2 separate regions of the Homo sapiens genome follow, and region 2 is linked to region 1. The links come from fine-mapping of genetic effects on gene expression. Tissue or cell type: whole blood. Region 1 holds a variant in brackets; the other region holds the start of a gene. All regions are shown on one strand. Distances are between the middles of the regions.

What was found. PIP is the estimated chance that this variant, and not a neighbour inherited with it, causes the effect. A credible set is the group of variants that fine-mapping cannot tell apart.
Region 2: MS4A2 starts here. The variant in region 1 is the best candidate, but not a certain one, in a credible set for the expression of MS4A2 in whole blood (TOPMed, PIP 0.89).

What each region holds. Positions count from the first base shown.
Region 1 is chr11:60,028,909-60,035,620 of GRCh38, forward strand. OOSP4B (oocyte secreted protein family member 4B) reads left to right here. Exons shown (of 5, transcript NM_001395278.3): 4 at 874-1,021; 5 at 1,894-2,187. The coding sequence ends at 1,926. Among named protein-coding and RNA genes, the nearest start is that of OOSP2, 8.1 kb to the right of the region's middle. The variant G/T (reference allele first, on the strand shown) is at 3,062.
Region 2 is chr11:60,085,682-60,091,037 of GRCh38, forward strand. It overlaps MS4A2 (membrane spanning 4-domains A2), which reads left to right and starts at 2,983. Exons shown (of 7, transcript NM_000139.5): 1 at 2,983-3,140; 2 at 4,011-4,140; 3 at 4,655-4,789. The coding sequence starts at 3,085.

The DNA.
Region 1 (6,712 bases):
TTGGTGCTGGCCGTCTTAAGGGGAATCTTAGCAGATGGGATTGAACTATATTGCCGTCTATATAGGCATCCACTGAGCTCTCAAAAAAAAATGGTTTCAATAGCAGATTATAGAAGTAAAGGCTATTATGCCTTATCTATTCGCAGTCCATTTTTCTCCCAGATCAAATAGGCCAGGACATATTAGCCCTTCTAAATTCAACAAGAGATATAGAAAATTTGAATGAGATTTTAGCCTCCCTTTACACATGTACTCTGAATCTGAATCATTCTCCTGGAACTGCCTACATGCTGGCTTTGAGAGACGAGCAAACCACATTCCTTTTTCTTACATGCAGGGAAGGAAAGAGCAGCAGTGGGAATAAACACTACAACTCCTAAGATAGGATGGGGAAGGGTTGAGATGGTAGTTAAAGGTGGTGAAATCCTTTTTAACCTTGGAATGGGGTGTGTCTATGTCTCTATTTCCTGCCTAAGATTTTGGTGGTAGCATCTTTTTGCATACATATGGGTCTCTGTTTTCAATTTCTAATCTTGGGATGTGTGTGTGTGGCCTGGCTTGGTTGAGTCATAGTCCATTCAGCATAGATAGAATGTTTGTCACATCTAACAATCATTTTGCTCTTCAAAACTTTTATTGACCCCGGAGCCTCAAAGTCAAGTCAAGGATCAATTCTGGATCAATAAGTACCATCCTATTCAAGGTTCTGTTACAAACTCTTTATTTAGATTTACTGAGCTACTTTGCCTTTCCTCCACAAGTCAGTTATTTTGGGTTATCACTTATAACGAACCTATCTAATACATATTTTTCCCACAAAAAATCTGTACAGCTATTAATCCTGTGCTTTTCTTTTGTTTGCTCTGCATTTAGGCTTAAATTCCCCTCTGTGATGCATTTTGGAATGAGTGGGTTTGATGCCCACACCTTGAAAGAAATCCCTCAAAAAACAAAAGGACAAGAGTCACCAACTCCCACACAAAGTAAAACATGGACACTTAATTTTAACAGTGTTAATAAGGTGAGAATATTAAGGTTGTTTATTTTATAGTTAACCACAATTTGTTAAATATAACTTCAAGGAAGGCAATGATGTAAATTCCTATTTGAATGCTGCATGCTGAAATTGCTCTGGTTTTAATATGAACCCTGTAGAATTAGGTACCGTAGTCTGTACTTGGATATAGTTATCATTTTCTTGTTGCAGATGAACATGAATAGGTTCCATACTGGTCAGTTTCCTTACCTATTCTCTCAGGTACTAAACTGTTCATTTTCAATATAGCCTGTGACAAAATGAAATTGTTGTCATAGAAGGCCCATACCAGATCTCTAATTTCATACTAATATTTGTAGAAAAACATGTCTATATACATATATGTGTATAAAATAAGTAGGCAGATAGGTAAACTAGGCTTAAATTCAGAGGAAGTCACTACATCTAATTCGCACTTTTCCTAAGATTAATACCTGTAGAAAACACTCTTTTTAATCAGGATTTTTCTACTGAGCTTATTTTAAAAGGATGTCAGAAAACTTGTGCATATTGACAATAGCCTTGAAGTTGACATTTCATAAAGAAATAAGCTTTGTTCTAGAGATCTGAAAACCACTTAAAATCAAAGTTGAAATGTATGATGTAATTACTTGATAGTCTCAGAAAGGCAGTCATCTAGCCAACACATAGATGCTAATCACTTCTAATAGCATAATATCTAATGGTTATATTTGATATAGCTGGTTAGTTCCATAGATTACATTTTAGGGTAGAAATGTGATTTTTTTTTCCACATTACTTCTAATTGAGCACCCATGAGTTCTCTGAACGTGTTTTCTTTTTAGGTAAGGTTATATTTAAGCAGCTCTTAACTGCTTTTCCCCCCTATCCTACAGGAGCAACTATCCAAGAAGTCACTGTATCAATAATGCCTGTGTTATAACACCCTCTCCTCCCTAAAGCAAGGGAACAAGTGATACATCTTGTCTGAAAACCAGTTTCATCAATACTGTTGATGTGTCTGTACAAAGATGAGTAGCAACATCTGTTACCAGTTTCACTACATTTTGGAGTTTTGAATAACATATCTATACCATGATATTTATACTTTTTAATGAGTTAATTTTAAGTGAAATTGCCATTCTAACTCTGAAATCAAGCTCATACATAATAAAGCTTGCCCATACCCAGTGTGTTCTTTTCTGAATTAACATTCAGCATTTTTATGATTTAGTTGCTCACTTTAGTTTTACCCATTATTCTTCGTAACCGTGTCTTAGTGAAATATATTGAAGTCTCCCTCTTTTATAATGCACTCAAAAGGAGGATTTTCCCATGAGCCCTTCATCTGTGGCTTTCTATACTGCTTTTTTCTTTTCTGTTTCCTGATAATGTCTCATGAGGAAACATTGTAAACTTATTTTGACATTGTGCATTTCTTTTCTATTACCTTGATAAAGCAAGAATCTAGAAGAAAATATTTCAGTTGCTTTTTGGCCTAATTCTGAAAGTGTTGTAACCATACAGGGCCACAACTACACTGTCACACCACCCTTCCCACCATCAGTGCTTTGGTGGAGATTTTCTTAGTGAACAAGATGACTTGCTCTTCCTTTTGAGGCTCCTGAATTGATCGGCAAAATGTCGAGTAGGGAGATCCAGCTATGAATCCCAAATAAGAATTCCCATTGCATGGAGGGTGGCAAAAATAATAGTGCCAAGCACCAGGAGTGGGAGCTCACATATCTAGACCCACTGAATCTATCTTGGAGTTGCCAAGGATGACTTGGCACACACAAGGCACTGGTTGGAACCAGTGTCTTTTTTTGTGTGTCCGGAGAGAAGGAAAGGTGAAGCAAGGAGAAAAGATGAAGCAAAATCAGCATTTGTTGTGTGTATTAGTCTCCCATGTAGGTCCCTCCTGATAGCCAATGCAAAGTGGGGGATGCATGCACCCCTCTGGAGCTGTAGGCAAAGACCCTGATACCTTACCACAGGGGGTAGGTATACCTATACCGATACCAGCCAAGTGCCATGTGACACCCACACCTTAAGCAATACAGC[G/T]AATGTGCCTTGTGTACCCAGAACAGGGAAATGATTTATTCTAATAAAGAACCTGGAACCAAGTGACAACTTCGCTCCCAGCTTCCATATAGCACAGTGTCCCAGGCCCAGTGAAAATCCCTTAGAGGGACGGCAGGCTCCACAATAGCTGCTTATTCCAACACAAAAGTGCTCAAAACTCAGATCATGCTGATCACAGCTTGCATCCCAGGTGGAAAGATATCTAATTCTTCTCTTAATTTAAATTGCTTAGTATATCTCTGGAAGTGAAGTCTTGTGCCTTTGAGTATACTGTAAAAGAGTACAGGTGCCAAACTCATTCCAGGGAGCCTGAACCAGAAAGTACCACATACATGAGCAGGGATGCATGCACACAAATGATCTTTACTCAAAGCAGGGTCAGTCTTCTTCCATAGGGAAAATGTAGTTGGGGCAGAACATTCTTATGGCTAGACTTCTTGCTCCTGGGAGGGAGAAAAACTCATGGACACAAGAAAATGTGAAAAAGGTCTCTCTCCACCTCTTTAGACACAATTTATTTTTGCTAAATCTGAAAGTACCTCTCTTTCCCCTCTAGAAATGGGGATTTTTGTTCCAAGAGAATACAAAGACATCTAAATTTGAGTCATCTAGAACTGCTAAATAACTTAGCTGAGCTGCTGGGCTTGGTTGACTAACAGGTACCTAACTATGTCAATTTCCTGATCTTCAATCCTTCCCAAGACAGCTGAAGCTGGAAAAGAGCTGGGATTGGTTGAAGGGACTGAATACTTTTGTTTTTGAAATGAAAATGACAGTAAAATTTTGTCATCTGAATATATGTGATTCTTTTACTATTTTTATTTCTTTCCACCTTGAGTAAAATTAAAGATGCAGCATGACTTGGCCTGACCTTTCTTTTTTATTTGATTTTTGAGATGGAGTCTCGCTCTGTCACCCAGGCTGGGATTCAATGGGCACGATCTTGGCTCACTGCAACCTCTGCCTCCCGGGTTCAAATGATTCTCCCACCTCAGCCTCCTGAGTAGCTGGGATTACAGGCACCCATCATGCCTGGCTAATTTTTGTATGTTTGTAGAGATGGGGTTTCACTATGTTGGCCAGGCTGGTCTTGAACTCCTGACCTCAGGTGATCCACCCACCTCGGCCTCCCAAAGTACTGGGATTACAGGGGTGAGGACACTTGGCCTAATCTTTCATTTCGATAAACCCTAGTAGATTTTTGACTACTCCTGGAAATATAAATCCCAATTAAAAGATATTTTTGGGCTCTTATAAAAAAGTTAAAAAAATTACAGATGCTTGCCAGGTTGCAGAGAAAAGGGAACAATTACCTACTGCTGGTGGGAATGTAAATTAGCTCAGCATTGTGGAAAGCAGGGTGGCAATTCCTCCAAAAACTTAGGGCTATCATTCGACCCAGAAATCCCATTATTGGTTATATACCCAAAGGAATATAAATCATTCTACCATAAAGACACATGTTTGTCCCAGCACTATTCACAATAGCAAAGCCATGGAATCAATCTAAATGCTCATCAATAGTAGACTGGGTACAGATAATATGGTGCATATACACCATGGAACTCTACACAGCCATAAAAATGAGGCATGTCCTTTGCAACAACATGGATGGAGCTGGAGGCCATAATCGTAAGTGAAATAATGCAGGAACAGAAAACCTAATACCGCATATTCTCACCTATAAGTAGGAGCCAGACCTTGAGTACACGTGGAGACAAATCAGGGAACAACACACACCAGGGCCTACTTGAGGGATGGAGGGTAGGAGGAGGGAGAGGATAGAACACTACCCATCAGTTACTATGCTTATTACCTGGGTGACTAATCTGTACACCAAGCCCCGTGACACGCAGTTTACCTATATAACAAACCTGCACATGTACCCCTGAACCTAAAATTTAAAAATAGCCATCTGTGGCCCTCATTGCAATAGGATACATGCATTTATTTAACAATCACTACAGTAATGAGGCAGGTACTCATTAACTCAACCTAAAAAGTCTCAATGGTGAATTCAATTGACCAAAATCTCTACATGTCAGAATGAGGTTTTGATCCAGATGCTTTTGGTTTTAGATCTTAATTTTTGACATTTAATGTCTGATACTTTGAAAAATCTTAAGTTTTTAAAATTAACTTTTAATGTAAGTATTCACTAATTCCAATAATAATGATTTCAGGGATATACAGTGTATCAAAGGGAGATCAGATGGATAACAATCTGTTTTATTTTTGACAAGGATTTGTGCAGCTGTGAAATTGAAGAAACAATGTCTCTGGGTTAAAGAATCTTGTTAATTTCCTGGAGACATAGCAGTAACAGGCTGACCAGAAAGTTGGCGAAAATTGTTTTTGACTTGAAAGGTTAGAGCCAAGGGTCAAGAGAAGTGGTACAATTGAGGATATATTTTGCGGGATATTAAAACATACAAATGGTTTGGACACAGAGTGTGAGAAACACACTGGAATCAAGCATGTCTCCTGTGATTGGGGGCTATAAGTGGGTGACTTGTGGTGCTATTTAGATGGGAAAGATTTCTTTGGGAGTCAACACTTAATGTTTGTGCAGGCTTAAAAATTTAACATCTTTTAAATTTAGCAGTTTTTGTGGTTTTCTTTCTATCTTGCGTTCTTCATCAGTATTCAGACAGGATTTTTGCTAATCACTCCAAAAAAGGCTGGACTCAAACTTAATGTGGTTAGGGGAGTTAGCAGGTTTTGTCCTCCTTAGTAGTTGTGACAAAATGTAGAATAAAGGCAAACTGAAAGTCAGTCCTGTGGGTGCCCTGGTCAGAGAATGGGACAAAGTGGGGCACAGGGAGGTGTCAGATAGGTATGATCAGAGATGGCCTCTACAACTGCTGGCACCCGAATAATCCTAACAAAGGAATTTAAGTAATGCAGTCTTCCCATCCCTTTACTTCTAGCATATATAGTGTAACCTAGATAGCTACAGAGAAAACTGCTGTAATATTTATTGTTTAATTTTGATAAAGCTAATCAATTATTTACACATATGAGTTCATTATGCTAAGATATGCTTTGGGTAATACAAATAATTACACATGGGGTCTCTGCCAAGCATACTCTGAACAAAGTGTGTATAACAACTTTAAAATTTCCTTATGCACTTGCTTTATTCTGCATGTGTATCATAGAAAGGTTGTTTTACATTGGGATAAGGTCACAGTGGTGGTATAGTTTGAGTTGCCCCAAATCTTACACAAACAGACAGTGCAACCAATATATTGAAACAAAGCACACAGACTGTTATCTTTAGAACTTAGTGATCAGGTATCCCTAAAAATTGTAGAACACAATGAATGGGGCCAACCAACTGCCAATATGAGGCCCTCTACAGGGTTTCATGAAAACTCGGGAACAATTACTAATGGGATTCTTTTATTCTCGTTTTTTTTTTTTTGAATTGGATCAATGAATCCAAATTAGCACATATGACTGCTTTAAGTTTTTTTTTGAGTAGTAATATCCATCATGCTTGTTGAATTTTTAATCAGTTTAATAATTTGTTAGTTGATTCTCTTTTTTTAATAAGTTGATTATATCAGCTGAAACTAATATTGATATTAACTATTTCAGGCCAGGCACAGTGGCTCACACCTGTAA
Region 2 (5,356 bases), 56 kb after region 1:
TTAGTTTAATTAGATCCCATTTGTCAATTTTGCCTTTTGTTGCATTTGCTTTTGGTGTTTTAGTCATGAAGTCTTTGCCCATGCCTATGCCCTGAATGGTATTGCCTAGGTTTTCTTCCAGGGTTTTTATGGTTTTAGGTTTTACTTTTAAGGCTTTAATCTGAGACAGCATAAATTTCAACTTGTAGCATGCAAATTCATGCATATTTATTTTAAGTAAATTGAGCATTCAGTTTGAGAAAACAATTGTTAATGGATACAAAAGCAAATTTTTTGTCAGTTTCAAGAAAGAAATCTAGTATGTAACTTAAAGAGGAAACCTTGCTTGTCAAAGAGGAAGCCAGAGATGTGGGGTGGGTGAAAGGCATGTGCAAAGACCGTGCTAGAGGAGGAAAGATACATGGTAGGGAAGGGGTGTTAGCTCTGTTATCTCTTCCTTTCAGGTAGCAGCATAGTTAAAACTCATCTTGATAATTTTGCCTCACCAAAAAAGCCAGTCATTTTGTCATATGTTTCAATGTTCATTATTGTGAAAGATGATAAAACATGGCTGAAGGGAACCAAAGTGTGGGCATAGAAGATAATAGGTAACTTACGAAGGGGCAAGGAGGTGGTTGTGAAAATTGGAATAGGAAACAATTTGGAGGCCGTAAGGTATGACAGGTTCTGATTTGCATTTTGCAAGGTTCTGTTGACAGTTCTCACAAAACAGCATCGTGTGCAAACACCAAAGACCATCTTCAGTTTGTTTCCAGTCTAAATCTCAAGTTCAATTAGTGATTATTTGCTGCACAAATAATTAACTACTATAAGCTACTAGAAAACGCCACACAGAACCATGACTTCAGGACTTTTCCCAGCAGGTGTGGGGTAATTTCACTAAGAAGGAGGCAATAAGGCTGGGTGCCGGGGCTCACGCCTGTAATCCCAGCACTTTGGGAGGCCGAGGCGGGTGGATCACCTGAGATCTGGAGTTCAATCTAGCCTGACCAACATGGAGAAACCCTATCTCTACTAAAAATACAAAATCAGCCGGGCGTGGTGGCGCATGCCTGTAATCCCAGCTACTCCGGAGACTCAGGCAGGTGAATCGCTTGAATCCAGGAGGTGGAGTTTGCGGTGAGCCGAGATCGCGCCATTGCACTCCAGCTTGGGCAACAAGAGCGAAACTCCGTCAAAAAAAAAAAAAAAAAAAAAAAAAAAGAAAAGAAAAGAAAAAGAAAGATAAAATGAAAATTCGTGGCTGGGCGCAGTGGCTCACTCCTGTAATCTCAGCACTTTGGGAGGCCGAGGTGAGTGAGTCACCTGAGGACAGGAGTTCAAGACCAGCCTGGCCAACATGGTGAAACCCCTTCTCTACTAAAAATTCAAAAAAATTAGCCCAGTGTTGCTGCACACTCCTGTAGTCCCAGCTACTTGGGAGGCTGAGGCAGGAGAATTGCTTGAATCTGGGAGGCGGAGGTTGCAGTGAGCCATTGCCCTCCAGCCTGGGTGACAGAGTGAGACTCTGTCTCAAAAAAAAAAAGAAAAAAAAAGAAAATAGAAAATTATCGAGGCTATCATTTTAATTTTAAGTCTGCTCTCAAATGTTACCTTGTCTGGGAATTCCTTCCCTGAACTCTACATATCCCCTATCAGGCAGAATTGTTTTACCCTTCTATGTGTTCCAACATCCTCTGGCCTCCAACATATTGGGTAATAATATATCATTTATCTTTGTTCTATTCTGCTTGATTGTGGACTAGAAGGACCTGGGATTTTGGCATTCATCTGTGCATGCACAGTGATAAGGGCAGTGCCTGGCATGGAACACTAAGTTCTTTTTGGATGAACGTATAAGTGAGAAAGTTCTATTCCTTAATTCCAATAGCACCTTGTTTAGGTCCACCAATTCCTGAAGACACCATGGGAAGATGACACCTGAGTTAATAAACTTAGATACAAAAGCTATACCAATATGTCTTTTAGTATACTCTGTTTATGCAAATATCTTAGTTTCCTGCAAAAAGATTTTCTTTTTCACCCCCCACCCCCACCAAAAAAACCACACATGATTAGAGGTGTGATTTTTAGTATCTTAAATATTATTGAAAGCCATTCAAGGTTATGTTTATAATTAAACTGAAATAAAAGAGATTAAAACCTTCTCTGAATTTTATCTGTACTGATTTTGCTATGGTCTAGCTAGTTATGGTATTTCAATGATCACATGGTTTAGCCCTAATTCTAATTTAGGCATACTACTCAATCCAATGCTGTTTAGATTTGCTCATGGGATTTGTTATAAAGTTCATGTCTCTCAGTGTTCTCACTATCCCATTCTTGCCACTGTAAAGATCTAAGCACCATCAGTCTAATAATTTAGCAGACAATGGAGTCTTCTTAGCTTTTACACACTATCAGGTATGGTTCACAGCAGTTAGAATGCAGCCTGTTGTATTTCCAAGACCATCTGCTGCAGCGAATCATGTAAACAGTTTCCAAAAGACGGAAAGAGAGAGAAAGATGATAGATATTAAAGTCAGAGATGGATCTGGAGATTTAGAGACTAACACATACTCACTCACATACAACAGCACTTCAGTTTTGGGTCTATGTGTGAAACCAAGCATGCCTTAAACAAGGAAGACAAGCTTTTCAAAGGTGCAATTGGATAACTTCTGCCATAGAAATGGCTGAATTGGGACACAAGTGGGGACAATTCCAGAAGAAGGGCACATCTCTTTCTTTTCTGCAGTTCTTTCTCACCTTCTCAACTCCTACTAAAATGTCTCATTTTCAGGTTCTGTAAATCCTGCTAGTCTCAGGCAAAATTATGCTCCAGGAGTCTCAAATTTTCTTATTTCATATTAGTCTTTATTTAGTAGACTTCTTAATTTTTCTATTCATCACAAGTAAAAGCCTGTTGATCTTAATCAGCCAAGAAACTTATCTGTCTGGCAAATGACTTATGTATAAAGAGAATCATCAATGTCATGAGGTAACCCATTTCAACTGCCTATTCAGAGCATGCAGTAAGAGGAAATCCACCAAGTCTCAATATAATAATATTCTTTATTCCTGGACAGCTCGGTTAATGAAAAAATGGACACAGAAAGTAATAGGAGAGCAAATCTTGCTCTCCCACAGGAGCCTTCCAGGTAGGTACAAGGTATTATTTTTTTCTACCCTCAGTCACTTAGTGGCAGGGGAAGTCATAGTCACGGTGCTTAGGAGATGAAACTTTATTGATTTAGGCATGGATCCATCTAGTTTAATTAATATATTGGGTATGAGGAAGCTACTTGCTGTACTTTCCATGTGGTTCTCTCTCCCTGGAGAGGAACATTTTTACTCAGCTTGCAAACTGGAAATAGATTTTCTCACATTAGAAGCTCATTTTCTGGGTATGAGACAGGAGAGTTCATACTGTGTATGTAGATCTCTGGCTTCTGGGTCTGACATGTGCTGAGGGACACATATCCTTCACACATGCTTTTATAAATACTTGATAAAGTAACCTGCTTCTTGATTGGTCTTTATAATCCATAAGCTGTGGGATGCTTCTCTGAAGATGAAAATAGTAATAGAGTCCCATCTAGCTATTCAAAGCCATTCCTTCATTGTATTCTGTGCACATGAAGTTGGGGTTTGTTACTGACAAAATATATTCAGATACATTTCTATGTTAAAAGGATTGTGAGATGCATAGGTAAATGTGTTTATTTTCAGTTTTACTTGTCAACATAGATGAATGAGAAAGAACTTGAAAGTAACACTGGATTAAGAATAGGAAAATTTGGCATGGATTTTGCTCCATTTTGTCCCATCTAATCACTTGGATAGTGTTCAGGTGTTCTTGGTCAGTTACTTGGATGCTCTGAGCTTTAGTTTCTTGGTGATTACAATGAAGATTTGAATTACAGGATGGCTTTGAAAAAATAAACAAAACTCCCCTTTCTGTCTGTCGAGAATGTTGCACAGGGAGTTACAGAATGTTCTCATGACTGAATTGCTTTTAAATTTCACAGTGTGCCTGCATTTGAAGTCTTGGAAATATCTCCCCAGGAAGTATCTTCAGGCAGACTATTGAAGTCGGCCTCATCCCCACCACTGCATACATGGCTGACAGTTTTGAAAAAAGAGCAGGAGTTCCTGGGGGTGAGTGAGCCTCCTCCAACTTTGACTAGAGTAAGGGTTGGGTCTAGAAAAGAATATTGAGTTGCATCAACTGTTTTCCCACTTGGATTCATGAGAGGTGTTAGGTCCTTTAAAAAACATGGTAGATAAAGAGTTGACACTAACTGGGTCCTTTTGGGAAGAGAGAAGCATTTCCTCATAAAGACTTTAAATTGCTAGGACGAGAATGGCCAACAGGAGTGAAGGATTCATAATCTTTATCTTTACTTAGATGTAAAGAACAATTACTGATGTTCAACATGACTACGTACATAAAGGCGCATGGAGAAAAGTATTGGCCTTCCATGCATTAGGTAGTGCTTGTATCAATTCTTATAGTGGCTAGGGTATCCTGGAAAATCTTACGTGTGGATCATTTCTCAGGACAGTCTAGGACACTAACGCAGTTTCTCATGTTTGGCTTCTATTATTAAAAAATGATACAATCTCGGGAAAATTTTTTTGATTTTCATGAAATTCATGTGTTTTTCTATAGGTAACACAAATTCTGACTGCTATGATATGCCTTTGTTTTGGAACAGTTGTCTGCTCTGTACTTGATATTTCACACATTGAGGGAGACATTTTTTCATCATTTAAAGCAGGTTATCCATTCTGGGGAGCCATATTTGTGAGTATATATCTATAATTGTTTCTGAAATAACACTGAACATAGGTTTTTCTCTTTCTCAGATCTAACCAGTTGTTTATTCCCAGTATTAACATGATATTTATAATTCTTAATTATAAATTATATGTGAGCATATATAACATAGATATGCTCATTAACAACAACAAAAGATTCTTTTTACAATTAACGGTGGGTTAAACATTTAGCCCACAGTTTTATCCCATGAGAAACCTGAATCTAATACAAGTTAAATGACTTGCCTAAGGGCCACTTGACTAATAGTAATTGAACCTAAACTTTCAGAATCCAACTCCAGGAACATACTTCTAGCACTATTCATCAATAAAGTTATATGATAAATACATACAACTTTATCTGTCAACTAAAAATAACAACAAAGGCTGGGCATGGTGGCTCACACCCGTAATCCCAGCACTTTGGGAGGCTGAGGCAGGTGGATCACCTGAGGTCAGGAGTTTGAGACCAGCCTGACCAACATGGTGAAACCTCATCTCTACTAAATATAAAAAATTAGCTGAGTGTGATAGTGCATGCCTGTAATCCCAG